Linked DNA regions of Homo sapiens: all the other regions are linked to region 1. The links come from fine-mapping of genetic effects on gene expression. A gene starts in region 1. Each other region holds a variant in brackets. All regions are shown on one strand. Distances are from middle to middle. Region 1 holds the start of KIFAP3 (kinesin associated protein 3). Region 2 overlaps KIFAP3 (kinesin associated protein 3). Region 3 overlaps KIFAP3 (kinesin associated protein 3).

Region 1 (5,237 bases):
CATCACAAATGTTTTCCATCAGGCCTGTATAAATACATGTCTCCTGTATGCTTCTAGTCTGAAAACAGACAATTCAAACTTTTTATTATTTATAGTAAAAATTAGATGAAATTGAGAAATGTATTTTTCAACCTTTTCAGACTCTAATCTCATTTTACTTCAAACATTACATTGACTGGCTTGGTTTTAATTTTGGAACTCTAGATAGTATGTATTTAAAAGCAAACAATAGGTTGAGAATTATAAGTCACAGTATGCCTCAGTGTCCATACTGGTACGATAATGTTAAGAAAAACTACCTCTGACACAAATATATTACATGAAAATCAGCTAATGGTATAACAGCGGCTCTTTGTTCCAGAACAATTTTGAATTTAAAGTTAAAAGGCAATTTATTTTCTTCTGTCACAAAATTTTTAACCAAGGTATTTTAAAAACCAACGTTAAGTAAAATTCAGTGAGGAAATAAACACTGATGTAGGCTTATATATTCATTTAAAAATTTTTACTGACAAAGTCTGGCTATTTGCCAGTTTCAGATATATTTACATAAAATAAAAAAGACAGTCAATATATGCCTGTCTTGCCAGGACAATAGAGTTGATTTATTTATTATACAATTGTTTGAATCCCTTCTATGAGTCTACTAACACTTGGAAGATCTTTCTGTGATGATGAGAGCTCAGCCAAGCCAGAATAAAAATATTCACTGCAAGTGTATTATGACTTGAAATAATACCACCACCTTACATTCATGTTTCATTTTTTAAAAGTATTTCATCTTTCGTCCTTGTATCTCTCAGAAGGTAACGCCTGTCCCATTTTCAGATGAGGAAACCGTGCCCAAAGGAATACATGCGACTTTTCCAGGGTATTTACTGAATCAGTACTGAATTAAAATTTTTTTCTATTGGATCACTGCTTACTCTTGGTTCAGTGGGAGGTATCTTTTTTTTTTTCCAAATCAGGAATGATCTGAGTATTTGCCAGCACCCAAATAATCCCAACAGACTACAATTTTTTTGAGTAACTGATACTATATTTAAAAGAAATTATGGCCTATTTTATTGTCATCAAACTTCTGAACAAACCTCTTAATAATTACTAAATGTCCTACAAAAATTATGTTGTATACATGGGAGTCAAATGGATGACATGGATGCGGAAAGCAGAAAGAGACTGGAAATCAACATCTCAATTCAGCCTTCCAAAAAGTAGAATCCACCACTTCTTTCCCCTTCATCATTTCAAAAGCCCATGGCAATGAACCCCAAACTGAGGCCTGAGGGCGGATGCACCAGACTTTATTCCCAGGCTCTCATGGGATTTATCTATTATGGGAAAATGGAGAGTCTGGGAAGAGGCGAAAAAAAAAACAAAAGACGCGGTTTACCTTGCCCTACCTCCCTCTCCCCCTGGAATAAGGTGATGTAGCGAAGAAACCATCTTTCAATGCTGTCAGGGCTCCGCCGAGTCAGGTCAAAGGACTTTGAAACCCCCCCAGAGCTCTCCTTTTTTCTCCACTTCACCTTTTCCCTCTCCTTTCGGTGACTTCTCTCCCTGCTTCCCATCCCGTCTGCTAAACTAGCGTTGCCCAGTGACATCTCACAGCCAACCCAAGAACATCTTCAGGGCCCTGGCAAGGAGGGTAGGACAGAGCCTTGGGGAGTCGTCACCTTTTGAGGTATCTGGCGTCCTCCCCTTGCATGGCGGCAGCGGCAGCGGCGTGGAGAGGATGGGGTATCTTGAGAGGCAGGCGCGGTTATTTCCGGGGACGGTGGCCAAAGTACCCTCACACCCAGAGGCGATGACAGTCCTGAGGCCTGCAAGGCGGGGCAGCAGCGGCGCTGTGGTTACCACGGTGAAGCCTCCAGCTCCTCCCACAGCTTCTGTGCCCCAAAACACTGGAGCGGCCCAGACCCGCCCAGAGTCGCCTAAGCCGGGCCGTCACGACGCATGCGCTTGCTCTGCACCTCTTGTATGCGCAGGCTCAGTCTGAGGCGGTGGCCTCAGAGTTTGACGCACCGGGGAGCCGAGCAGGGAAGTTTTGGTGCAGTTTTGAGCGTCCGTGTATAAGGAGTGGCTCCGTAGTCACCGCCCCCTTGAGGATGGGAATAGAAAGGGCTGTCAGGTCAGCTTGAAAGGAGAGAGGGGAATCCGATAACCTTTTAGTTAGCGAATGCTATACAGCAGTCCAGCTAATAAGGGAGGTTTCTATTTGGGGGCCTGAATGGCCCTGATTGCACTTACAAGCTCTAACTTATGGAGATAATCTGACCGTTGTACAAAATGGATATAACTTTGAAGGCGGCAAGTCTGTCACTTTGATGTCTTAAATCTAGAATACACCTCCCCCAACCAAAACAAACAAACAAACAAACAAACAACAGCAACAAAAAACAGTTCCTGAAATTCCAACTCCACCAATTATCCTGAACTCAAGGTATGTTTAGAATTGCTTCTTCTGAGGCAGGCAATTGTTAGCAGTGCAGGGCATAGGAAAGAAGGGTTCTTTTTTAACTGCATGTTCTCTGGTTTAAGATCTATTCCCATGGGTTCAGCTATTATGTCTATGCAAATGATATAGGTTCATTTATTTGGTAAATGTGAATTGAGGGCTGGCTGTGTGCCAAACACCAAACCAGGCTCTAGGGATGCAAAGAAAGCACCTCTACTCCCCCTGCTCACCTATAATCTTGTCACTTATTCACTGTCTTCTAGTCCTGTTTTCCCAGTTGCTTTGAGACGTGCACGTAGTTGCTCTGCTGCTTTTTTCAAATGTAGTACATTGATGCAATTATTGATTATCCGTTATGTGTAAAACACCATGTTAAGGCACTGCATGGTATATTAAATATAGAAATACAGTCCTTACCCAACAAAATATATTTTTATCTTCCCACCCATTCACACCAGCTACACTATTTCTGTAGATGTTATAGTCATTCTTTCATTCTGAAAGGGAAGAAAATTTGCAGCTAATTTTGACTCCTTCCTCTGTATCATGCCCTCTTACTAAAGTGTTACAAAATTCTATCTTTTCTTCCTTCAAGATATTCAGGTAGTCCAGTTTTTTTCTACATTCTTACTTCTACCAATAGTCTAATCACTTTATACCTAGAGTACTGCAATTCCTTCCTCATTGGACTTCCTATTTTTTGTTTTTCTAAATATTAATTCTGCAAACTAATGTAAAATTTTACAAATTATCATTTATAACACCTTTAATGGTAATATAGCAGGCTAGATTACTTTAAAATCTTCACAATACGTAAAATTGGAAGACCAAAATATACATTAAAATGCATAGATAATATAACAAGGATTTTTGGAATGTAAGTTAGCTCCTTGAGCTCAGAGAACTTATTTCGTTCACTTTTGCATTCAGCCCATAGTTGTCACTGAATAAAAATTTTGGTGTTGAAAAAATGCAAACCTGAGCTTGAAAAAACAATAGCAACAACAACAACAAAAAAACCTAAAGAAAATGCCCAGAGGCCAGAAAGAAAGAGAGAGCTGGAAACCAGAGCAATAAATAGATAGCTGAAACTGGGACTGAACTAGATAAACTGTCTGTCTGTGGCAGGAAAAGTACAAGATGAGCCTGGAACATTTTATGCTTGACAGTAAGGACATAGTCAGAGACTAAGAAGATAAGATTATGTAAAAAGGACACTGGTGAATTTGAGGCAATTTGGGAATCAAATGGAATTACTGGGATTGATTTAAGACATTAAATAAATAAAAAAAAGAAATCCATAATGATACTCAACAACATAGAAAAACAGGGAAAAAAGAACCCCACTTCCACTGGAGGCAACTACTGCATCAGATCTTTACTCTGAAAGCTGGTAATTAAAAGAAAGAAGGATTTAATCTAATGCTTTTGGAAATAAACCAGATTTCACCTCCTTTTAACAAGGAAAAGCTCTTCTTAACAGAAAATACCTGGTAGGAATGGAGAAAAATAATGATAGTTACTATTTTGCAAGCACCAATAAACAATGGATTCAAATAAGCCCTATTAATTTACTTTAAAATAATTTAAAGTGAGGCAAAGTTTTACCCCGCATATTTCTTTATAATTCTAAAGGAAAAGAAATGTTACTTTACAATGAGGAGATCTAGCTGTCAGCATTTTAAACAGACAAGCAAACAGCATCATTAGTGAGAGGTGAACCCAGCTGGACTTCTGGGTCGGGTGGGGACTTGGAGAACTTTTCTGTCTAGCTAGAGGGTTGTAAATGCACCAATCAGCACTCTGGGTCTAGCTAAAGGATTGTAAATGCACCAATCAGCACTCTGTACAAACGCACCAATTAGTGCTCTGTGTCTAGCTAAAGGATTGTAAACGCACCAATCAGCACTCTGTAAAAATGCACCAATCAACGCCCTGTGTCTAGCTAAAGGATTGTAAATGCACCAATCAGCACTCTGTAACACCAATCAGCAGGATGTGGGCGGGGCCAAACAAGGGAATAAAATGTCAGATTATTTTGTAAAGTTGAATAGGCACATACTCTAAATCTCAGCAATTCTACTCCTAGTTCTATACTTCATAAAATTGTTCCAAAATCATTGGAGAAGTATTGAGCTTAGTAGAAAATGAAAAACAGAAAGACAATAACAAAATACTTTTGCAGGAGAATGAATGAATACATTTGAAATATTCACACAATACAATAATATGCAGCAGAGAAAGTTGATGAACTAGAACTTTACATATGACATGGATGAATATTAGAAACATGATACTGAGTGAAAAATTGTGGCAGATTAAATACAGCATGATGCTTTATTTAAATTGCACTATAATTTAAAAACAATAACATGCATTCTTCTTGGCCTACAGTTCTCTAAGTTTTGAAAAACTCTTAAGTCATATAATTACCTGCACAATCATAGAGCAGTTCTGTCATCCTCTAAAATTCCTTTGTATCCTTTGGAGTCGCCTTATCCCCACAACCCCAGGCTCTGGTAAATACTGATCTGTTTTCTGTTCCTATAATTTTGCCTTTTCCAGAACGTCATCTGAATGTAATGATAGGCGCTGTAGCCTTTTGAATCTGGTTTCTTTCATTTAGCACAATGCATTTGAAGACAATCCATTTTGTTTTTCGGTCCTGTTTTTTTTTTTATTGTTAAGTACTATTCCATGGTATGAATGTACCATAGTTTATTCATTCACCAGTTGAAAGACATTTGAGTTGCTTCTAGCTTTTGGCAACTATGAATAA
Region 2 (5,237 bases), 150 kb before region 1:
AAAATCTGGTGAGGACAGGATATTTGTCTTACAACATAAAATGTATTTCTAAAAGTGCCCAAGGCCAAAACCTTTTGTTCTCTGAAGTATGTAAAAATATTAGGCTGGGCACAGTGGCTCATGCCTGTAATCGCAGCACTTTGGAGGCTGAGGCAGGTGGATTACTTGAGCTTAGGAGTTCGAGACCAGCCTGGGCAACATAGTGAGACCTCATCTCTGCAAAAAGTAAACAAAAAATTAGCCGAGTGCAGTGGCACGTGCTTGTAGTCTCAGCTACTTGGGAGGCTGAGGTGGGAGGATCACTTGAGCCTGGGAGGCTGAGGCTGCAGTGAATGATGACTGTGCCACTGCACTCCAGCCTGGGTGACAGAGCAAGACCTTGTCTTAAAACAAATCTTTTTTTACATAGTCTTCCTTATTAATCTCTTTAGAAAAATATTCCTTCATAAATAATGCAATGGTAAGCCAGTTCAAGCCTGAGTGGAAAGATTACAATTTCTAAATTTGTTAAGTCCTATACTAATGAAAACAAAATTAGGGAGAGTGAGCATGTGCACGTAAAATTGAGCGAGCATAGCCCTGGGAATTTTATCAATTTTGGCGGGTGTTCTTCCTAATGCAGTTTATAACAACATGAGGGAAGTTAAAGCTATAGGATGTTTGCATCATTTTCCTATTAATGTCACTTATGTGTATTTATACTTTGTACACATGATAAATAATAAAACAAGCTATTTAGTATTGAGATTGCTGAATAGGAAGCAAAGAGACAGCCTATGTCATTGACTAAGTCACTTAACCTCTCCTGGCCAGTTTTTTTGACTGCAAAAATTAGAGTTGGACAGGGTTGCTTCTAAGGCCTTTTCCAGCTTTAATATTTTATGGTTAAAATAGAAACTAAGACAAATAAATGTATGTTTTCAGAAAGATCAAAGGCATAAACATACCTCAGATTTACATCTCCTAAGGGGCATCATATACTTCCTTACACATAGCAGGTAGTCAGGAAAATATCTGTTGATTACATTTAAATTTTTTATGTGATTGGTTTCTTAAATAAGTAGATGGAATGAGTTATTTCAAAGGCCTTTTCCAAATGTTATCTTCTGCTTAAAATGTAATTTAAGCCACATAAATAGTGTAGTTAGATCAATGAGATTTTAAATTCAAGAACAGAAGTCTTATCTTTGATCTATGTATTCCCTTTGAAGCTTCATATTTTCTCCCATAGCAGGTGATCATGGAACTATCTCTGATTATAGTTATTATTATGGTTATTTCTTTGCTCAGCTTTTCAAGTAGAATTGAACATTTTTTTAATATGAAAACACTGAACTATTTTCAAAACCCATTATGAATTATATAATGTCTCTCCATTTCTTGCTATCTAAATGTACGTTATAAGAACAAGTGAACAATTGGGAACTGGGTACCCAAGTGAGTGAAATATTCTGTTCCTTAGTTTTCCTTAATGCGACTTTTAATTAGCTTTCCCATGCTTTAGATACTAAATTTATGAAGAATAAAAGTTAAAAGCCAAATGCTAATCTTGTATCACTGCTTGTCTTGTATACTACTTGTCCTAGGATTTCTATATTACAACTAGGAAGATATGAATTAAAACCACCAAAGAGACTATAACCATAAATAACTTATGACATATGTTCCATTATTAATTGAAAACTCATAGTTAATAAACTTTGGGAAGGAAACTTTCAGGCACATGGCATGGAATATGAAGGTGATGTTCTTTTTATAAATTTTAAAGGTAGCATATATTATACAAATTACTCAAGAGTTTACAAGCAGAAAAAAAGGAGAAAAAATAAAATTCACGCGCACCCTATATTAACATGTAATTCGTAGTGAAATGTGTGAAATATAAACACATGACTTTCACTTATTCATTTTCACTTTACGCTTTTTAATTGAAATTAAATTAGTCACTTAACATACATAATGCAGTGTTTGTTTTCCAGTCTAGTAGCTTTTCAGCATTCAGTTTTGTGGCTCATGGGAAATGTTACTTAGCATCAAGATGTGGTTTGATGAGTGAACAATGTCAGTATCAACTGTACTTAACAGAAGACAGAGGGGCTGGGGTTAATCTGCAGCTAACA[A/G]CATATAAAAATAAAAACAAACACAGACCCACAATAACATCAACATGCATTATTAGGCAAAGATCCAAAATTAACCCAACCCACACAGATTTCTTCTAAGCTGAGATTACACATGGAAACAGATACTTTATCAAGATCCATAGCCATAGTAGTAAGGTTCATCAGGGCGGAATCCATATGCTGTGGCAGGGCGTCCAAGAATGCCAACTGGTTGGCCAAAGCCATCCATTCCAAGGCTAAAAAAGAAAAAAAAGAATGATAAGCTATGTTTTTCATCACACATCCACAATGCAGATTAAGAGGCCTACATTTTTATACCACCAAGATTCTCTTCCTAGCAGGGATAGTGATTTAGGTGGATATCATTAACTTTTTTTTTTAAGGTTAATAGAGCCATTAAAAGTGTATATAATAAAATACTTCTAACAATGTGTGTTAAAAGTATGGGAAACCTCTGTCAGTAGGTACTATTTGAAACAAAGTGGAAGAATCAAATCAGAAAAGTTTTATTTAATAAATTACTTATATATGGCTCTTAAGCAAAAATATGAAAAGATTTTACATGCTAGCAATGATCAGTAATATATTGCTAGGGAATGATAAAAATAAAACTGTAGTAAAGTGAGTTTTGCTGTTTATAATGTCTTTTCATATGAAGATACAGGACTAATTCCACTTTTAGTAAAAACATGTGTTTGAGTTATATCAGTGAACTCTCATGCAGGGCCAAATCATACCATAAGCCTATGATTAAAAGAACAAGATAAGGAATTTGACAAAATTTGAAAATTAGTCAGATTTGATCTGCAAATCCTTCCTCTGATTCCTCAATGCAAACAATTACAAAACATATCTATTTCTTTTGAGTGACAGCAAGACAATTACAAATTTTGGTTCAACTTATTCTATGGGAATAACAGAAACCCAAAGATAACCTTCAGAGTTGTAAAGATAGCTTGAAGTATGTTAAACTTCATGATTATTATTTTAAAAAAATTACTTGTTGGTCTATTAATACATTATTTAGAGGAAAATCTGTTCTCCAAAGTCCTTTTTAAAGGTCAGGGAATTATCCAACACTTAGGAAAATGATAAAGTATTTATTTTGCCAGGCAGAACATGGTGGCCTTAACATGCTCATGCATAGCTCATGCAGTGAATGCTAGTGAGCTTGACTTCCAATCAATGGACACCATTTGTAATGCAGAAATGTAAGCTTTGGAAAAATAAAACATATTTAAATGATTTAAGATTTAAGTTTGCACTACATGAGATGGAAAGATAATTTTCCCTCAATAGCAAAAACTGAATGTGATGAAAAAATATATTCACATAGGCACTAACTCCCTGTCACACTCAGAGTGAGATTAAGTTGACACACTTTAGAAGTAACTATTAAAATGTTAAGGTTTTAAATAAATGTGTGAATGCGTGTGTGTGTTTGTGTGCACGCGTGCTTGTGTGTATTAAGATGGAACTAAAGAGTAAATGTAAAGAGCCAAAATACATATAACACATACTGGTCCAGTGACTCTGCCCTTTAGGAGAATGGAAGTTCTGAAATACAAGTTTCAGGTTAGCATTTGTACTGAGCGATTCTGGACAAAATTTGTTGTTTTGGGGTCCTTCTATATAAAAACTCTGTCTATAGTTTCTCAAAGTTGGTTGAAATTTTTAAGTCTACATTTTATTTTGAAATGGTAAAAATATAGGCACTTTTTCTAACTTTGATCTCATGGGAAGAGAGACTAAATTTTGTGATGAGGAAATCAAGAGGTAGCTTAAAAGATGCTTCAGAAATTAGTGGAATCAGTGAACTAAGAGACACTGGTATCAGCTTAAAATTAGAGAAGTTATTGAAAACTGTTCTCTGCAAGCACTAAGGCTAACAAGTAATCATGTATCTAAAGAACTCTCAATTATATAACTGTTGATTACATAGCTTGGATTTCAACTTGTTCCTTCTTCATCTTTTGCTTATTACCTGTCTTCAACCAGTCCTTATCTTTTTTAGCAACTCCTCTGAGGCCAAATAGCAGTAGACTTAGGTTAAACTCAAGTTAATCTTATGCTTGTTTCTCAATCTAGGGGCTATGGCAAGATCTATTTCAGTAATATGAAAACAAGAGGCATATGTGGGACAGTGAGGAAACATGCAAAGGCACCTTCAGAGTATCTCACAGACGACTTGTTAGCAATATCACTGTAATTCTACCTAAAAGAAGATGGTCCTCAGAAGGGAGTTCACCAGTCATTGGCACAGAACAAGGAGCGTCTCAGCTACAACGCTGGTTGTAGCAACCTAGGCAATTGCGTGGTGATCTGGTAAGCTATAACACCATAAGGAATATCTGGCCTTTTTGCAGTTTGGTCCTCAATCAGGAAGGGAATTTAACATTCTCAGAGTCTGAGGCCATTCTACATTCAAGTTGCAAAATTCTCCCCCTTTTTTTTATTTCTACGACTAATAGGCAAACTATTGATCACTGTAATTTCCCATGTAATTTGCCAACAGGTTAAATAATAAACTTAGATATTACCTAATCCACCTGATGGTTATAACTTTCATTGTACATTAACAAATGGATTTTTCTTTTTAAAATATGTCATGCACATTGTTGATAAAAACCTGCAGTCCCAAGTCAGTGAAAGACTGGCCCTTGAGCACTGATGAGTCTGAGTTTCTGAACCTGTAAATCTCTGGTCTTGAACAGTATGGTCTTTAGGTTACTATGGTAAAGATCTATTTATGTAGTCAGCAGTTCACCCAGAGACATCTGTGTGTATTACAGTGTAGAGGATATCATTTAATTTTTCGAATTTCTATATACAAATATCGTTTTGGAAAAAAGGAATAAAATTTGAAACCAAACTCTAAAATGATCTTTTCTGGAATTCTCCATTATGTATCACAGATGAACTTGCTGTTTAAAGCAAAAAATATTTAAAACATTTATGATCAGTTTGGAGAGTACTTTGACATAGGTCCTAGGTCCTTTTGTATTATGAAAAATCAACTATATCTACATACATTTTTAATTAAATTCACTGTGAAACATAACAGTTTGTTTCTTTAAACTCTCATTTGCTTCTTTCTAATATAGTGGGGGAAATCAG
Region 3 (5,237 bases), 74 kb before region 1:
TATATATACACACACACACACACACACACACACACACACACACACCACACACACTTTTTTTTTTTCTTGAGGAAACAGTGTGAAAGGAGGTGATGACAGAGCTAAGGGACTATAATATTCTAACCCAAGTTGCTAATGTGTCTTCTGGATTTTATGTGAGTAAAGTTTCCCCTAGAATTTAAACAACTGATTTACAAATAACTATAAATTTAATTCCCCCCCTTTTTGTAATTAGGGAATGAAAAAGATATAAACTGGCATTTGGCCTTTTATTCAGAAAAATACGTAAATATTTTATAAACGGTCTTGTTACCCACATATTATCTTGATGATTCTAGTTCTATCCTACAGTTACAAATCACATATTTTCTTTCTCTTCTAAATAATTTCAATATATGAAGACTACAGTATATAAACCATATGTATCTTATTCACTGAATCATAAATGATTACATAAATAATCAATACTTAATAAAAATGCAGCCTATAACTTCACGGCATCTAGCAGATATCTGGAACCTACAACAAAAAGACAAGGCATTTTAGAACAAAATTGAGTACGTGGAGGGGGAAGATGTCTGGCAATAACCTGAATTCATCTATTCAAACACAGGTCTGCAAAGAAAGTAAAGACTCTTTGGCAGCCAACATTTAATATTACGACTTAAAGGCTAATTTGCAGATCACATAGCAATAAACAGCTATTAGAGAGATTAAATGGTCTAAGTAAAATAAAGAGCTTATCTTTTATTGTAAACTAATAGTCTTCTTCATTCACTGAAAGAAAGAACATCTGAGTTCTTACAAAATAAAGCTCAAGAAAAAAAATCTTATATACCCTAAGTGAATTCCTACAAGAAATGAGGATTGGAGGGTATGATTTTCTCGTAAGAATTCATGACTAGAAGCCATAAACTGTAGCTAACCGGCTATGATTCCTCTACATCCTACAAATGGTAGACATTTCAAAAAGGCTCCTTTAAGACATAAAGACATCAATTATTCCCTAACGGCATCCCAAGTAAAAACAGGCTGCCAACAGTCAGCATGCTGGCACAGCACCAAAGACTGTGAATTTTAAGCAAGGGCAGTGAAAAGACTGAGTATCTTGAGAACTAGGTTCTTAATGACTGGAGGTGGATTAGTTAAATCTGTTCAAGTAATAAGGGCAGGGTAGAAAAAAAATGGCCTAGTCATTATGATTCCTTTGGTATTTATGGTAATAAACATGAATCATGATGAACTCACTGGCTATTAAACGCAGAGGTCATAAGTACTTCGATAGGATTTCCACAGGAATTCACCGTTAATTAGCTGGATCATTATTTGAAAGTGTTACTGAATTATCTTAGCATTTGTGCAGCCATTCCCCTCAAATTGGTCATTCCCAGCTGAGGGCAGTTAATGCCTTAACAAACTGGTCATTAACTCCAGTAACTGATTTTGTGGGAATTATTGCACTTATAAAGTACATTCAAGAGTTTATAAGAAACATTGCATCTTTTTTTCTTTTTAAAGAAATTTACAGCTGTAGTTCAGCTGGAGCAGCTGAAGGAGAAAAAACTATCAGCTCTCTGGGCTGCTCTCACAATCGATTTTCTGCCAATTAAAGGGCAAAACACATGCTGATGGGTTTTGAATTTTAAAATGTCTTCAGTTTTTTCATCTGTGAAGTGATCAGTAAAAACACCATTCAATTACTAATTTTGTAAGACACTTGGGATTTTTCATTCACAGTTCAGTCAAGCAGAAATACGAGTTCTGAACATGAGAACTCAAAAGCCAAATTTCCGCTTCTGCAGTAGATCCAGCCCAACACTGTGAAAACAAAGTGAGAACACAAGTTATGGGCCACATTATTAGCCAGATTCTCATTCCCTTCTATACTCTATGTCTTCTTCTTTCAAAGTGGAACACTCCCTTTGATGTCACAGAGGCTCCATGAAAAGATAATAGAAGTGGGAATATAAGCACACCTATATTAGGATAGAATAGCATTAAGGTGATATATTACCCCTGGAAAGTCTATATGAATACAACGTGCTTCAAAATTTGCAGGTGTCTTTACATTTATTACGGAGTGAGAGCCCCTAAAGTTCTATCAATACAGTGAAAATGCCACAGGTGAAAACCACCACTTAAAAGATAATTGCAACAATTATTGAACATGTTAACTACACACTGACATAGACTAAAAACACATTGAAGCTATATCAGAACATCTTTGATACATGTTTCCATATAATTTTATGCTTAACTTATTAGAGCATATACTGCAGATATATACTCAATATAAACAGATAGCCTTAGTTTAAACTTGAATTTGCACAGACCAATGTTTAAGACTGTAACTACATTGGATGATCTCTTTTATAATATATTTGTCTATAGTCGAGATTTGAGATGAACAGATAAAAACCAACAGTTGTTAACCAACAGTTAAGGGGAAAAAATAACATAATTTATAGGTTACAAAGATCAGTATGAAAACATTAAGTACAACAATAGTTTCTGAGGTACAGTGGTTCACGGATAAGTAATTTTTTATGTCCAATTATTTAATTTTAAAAGTATGAGAAACTAACATTGCAGATCTACCAGTAAGCTAAACATTGTTTTTAGAGATAGTCACTAAATGAGTACTCTTATATAGAACATTTTTGATAGATTTTCATTTGTTTTAGTATGTACAACTGTACATTTTGCCACACAGCTTATTTTTCATCATATCTTCAATTATTTTATTATGTCTTCTGTAGAATTTTTATTACATCCATAGAATACAAGTTATTTGCAATAAGATCTAAAGAATACACATACTTGTGGTACAAATGATAAGGATCAAAATAAAGCCCTTAACAATGACTGCTTTCTAGCCTGTATGTCCAAATCATTGACTTAATATGCTTTGGCCAAATTTTACCATCTAGAAATGGAGACACCCTAGGCAATATTCACACACACACAGTATTGGAACCAGCTGGTGACAGAAGAATCTTAAGAAAAAAGGCTTCTTGATTTAATTGGGAAAACAGGAGGAAGCATAAATTTTACTGCCATTAATAACTTCAAGCAATCTTGATATGAGTCTACCTCACCCTGAC[G/A]GCGAGACATGTGCTTTCTGTTAAACTGTTTGCCACTTCTGACCCCTATTGTTTGCTCACTTGATCAGGTAAGAAAATGTAGGTTTATTTATAGGATAAATGAGGCCTATTAAAATTGAGAAACAGTGTAGTAGTCTATGAGGAGTTGTGTTCTGAAACAGATGTGTGAAATTCCATAACAGTTCGGTAATAAACAGAACAACCAAACCAATTTATTTTTTAAAAAATCTACTTTAAGTTTCTTAAAGAAACTATCATAAAGGCAACCTAGTTTCAAAAAAATGGAAAACACTTCATTTTGCTTGGAAATCATTATTCTGACCATTTCCAAACAGTTTTTAATAAGTCAGAAAAGGCAAAATGTTGCTTTCTTCACAAAATAAAGTTTCATTTTTTCATTCTTTATGATGCTGTTGGTAAATTAAAAGTTAGATCATATTAATATAAAGTAAATAAGTGAATTTAAAATTGTGGAAAAATTTCAAAGGTGTTCAGAAGTTAACTTTGTCAATTTTCTTTTAAAGACATATGACAGAATGGTCAAAGGAAATAACCCTTAGTTTTTATATGATCAAAGTTTAGAGTTCAACAGTATCTGCTCTGGTGATCTCCAAAAATAAGGGAAATCAGACTTGTCTAAACCGGAAGAAATCAAACATTTGTCACTTAACTCTTGACCTGGTCTGACTCCTTACATGCTGATGAAACTGTTCTACAGCTCTGTAAAATGCCCCAAACCCATATTACCTAAATGTAATCTAGACAAAAATGAATCAGGTGCCATTCTTACTCTCAAAATCAATTTTGGGTCTACTCACAGAATAGAGAAACATTTATATCAATATGGAACACCTTAGAAACTCTAATTTGTCTTCCAATGAAGACAATATGGTCTAACATTACTGACTAAAAATTAGACCTTTTGAAATTATTCACATAAAATTGTGAAACAGGCCTGATGTGCTATTGAATTTAGGAGTCCCAATTTTCCTGTCATAACCAATAACATTAGTTTCTGCACAAGCCAGCCATGCAAACTGGCACAGATTTAAAACTCTTAAAGTTAGAAGAATCAAAATTTACACAGGTAGAACTCAGAATCAAAATTTAAATGATGGCTCAAACCTTCATACTAGTAGCTTTCAGTGCCATACGTTTATCACTGACCAGGGTGGCTCTGCTGATTAAAAGATAACTTTAAGAAATATGTCAGAGCTATTAACTTTTTTAGTTAATTTGCATAGGTTTATAAATTATATATGAAAATGCTTAACACAAGTACACCAGATGAATATTCACTTATTCTAAGTATAGAAAAGCTTAGCAACATCTATTGGTAACACTACTAATTCCTCAGTTTTTAAGGATGAGAAACATTCTCATCTCTGCTTATAAATGAGCTAAGGAGGTATCCCAAGGCAGGGTAATTCTGTGATACTGGGTTCTAATTATATGGACTTCTGAATACGTTTAAAGAACAGTTTACTAACCTAGGATTAAGACTGCCATTTCATCTATTTGAACAGTGGTTCTCAAACTATCTGTGGTGGTGAGCCAGGTTTTTTCATTTCTTCCCCTAACATTTTTATTAAAGTACAATAAAAATGAAATTAAACAAAAGATATATAAAATAGAAGATGCAAATTTTTATTATTACATTCAGCAGACAAAATCTTATTCAGTCAAACTGCTATATGTGTCTAAGTGCTTACTTTCAATTTTTGGACTTACTCATTATAGACCAGTAACAACCAATAACAAATAGACCAAGTATTGCTCTGTGGACCATACTTTGAGTATCACTGTATTAGAAGATTCCTGCCCTGAATTCACTGATACATGAGAAAGCTATAAAATATAAGTGAAATTAAGGTGCTATTTCAATGTTTAAAACAAACCCTCTATAACAAATCCTCCCGGCCGTGTGAGGTGTCAGTCCACACCTACTGGGGGGTGCCTCCCAGTTAGGCTACTCGGGAGTCAGGGACGCACTTGAGGAGGCAGTCTGCCCGTTCTCAGATCTCAAGCTGCCTGCTGGGAGAACCACTAATCTCTTCAAAGCTGTCAGACAGGGACATCTAAGTCTGCAGAGGTTACTGCTGCCTTTTGTCTGTTTGTGCCCTGCCCCCAGAG

Evidence for each region. PIP is the estimated chance that this variant, and not a neighbour inherited with it, causes the effect.
Region 2: its variant is fine-mapped to the expression of KIFAP3 in whole blood (TOPMed, PIP above 0.99).
Region 3: its variant is fine-mapped to the expression of KIFAP3 in whole blood (INTERVAL, PIP 0.93).

The regions. Positions count from the first base shown.
Region 1 is chr1:170,072,760-170,077,996 of GRCh38, forward strand. It overlaps KIFAP3 (kinesin associated protein 3), which reads right to left and starts at 1,936. Exons shown (of 20, transcript NM_014970.4): 1 at 1,677-1,936. The coding sequence starts at 1,708. RefSeq lists enhancers at 1,745-1,804, 1,865-2,164.
Region 2 is chr1:169,919,426-169,924,662 of GRCh38, forward strand. It overlaps KIFAP3 (kinesin associated protein 3), which reads right to left. Exons shown (of 20, transcript NM_014970.4): 20 at 1,904-2,356. The coding sequence ends at 2,251. Among named protein-coding and RNA genes, the nearest start is that of SCYL3, 28 kb to the left of the region's middle. The variant A/G (reference allele first, on the strand shown) is at 2,121.
Region 3 is chr1:169,998,393-170,003,629 of GRCh38, forward strand. All of the region lies in intron 10 of KIFAP3 (kinesin associated protein 3), which reads right to left. Among named protein-coding and RNA genes, the nearest start is that of KIFAP3, 74 kb to the right of the region's middle. RefSeq lists an enhancer at 4,820-5,237. The variant G/A (reference allele first, on the strand shown) is at 3,105.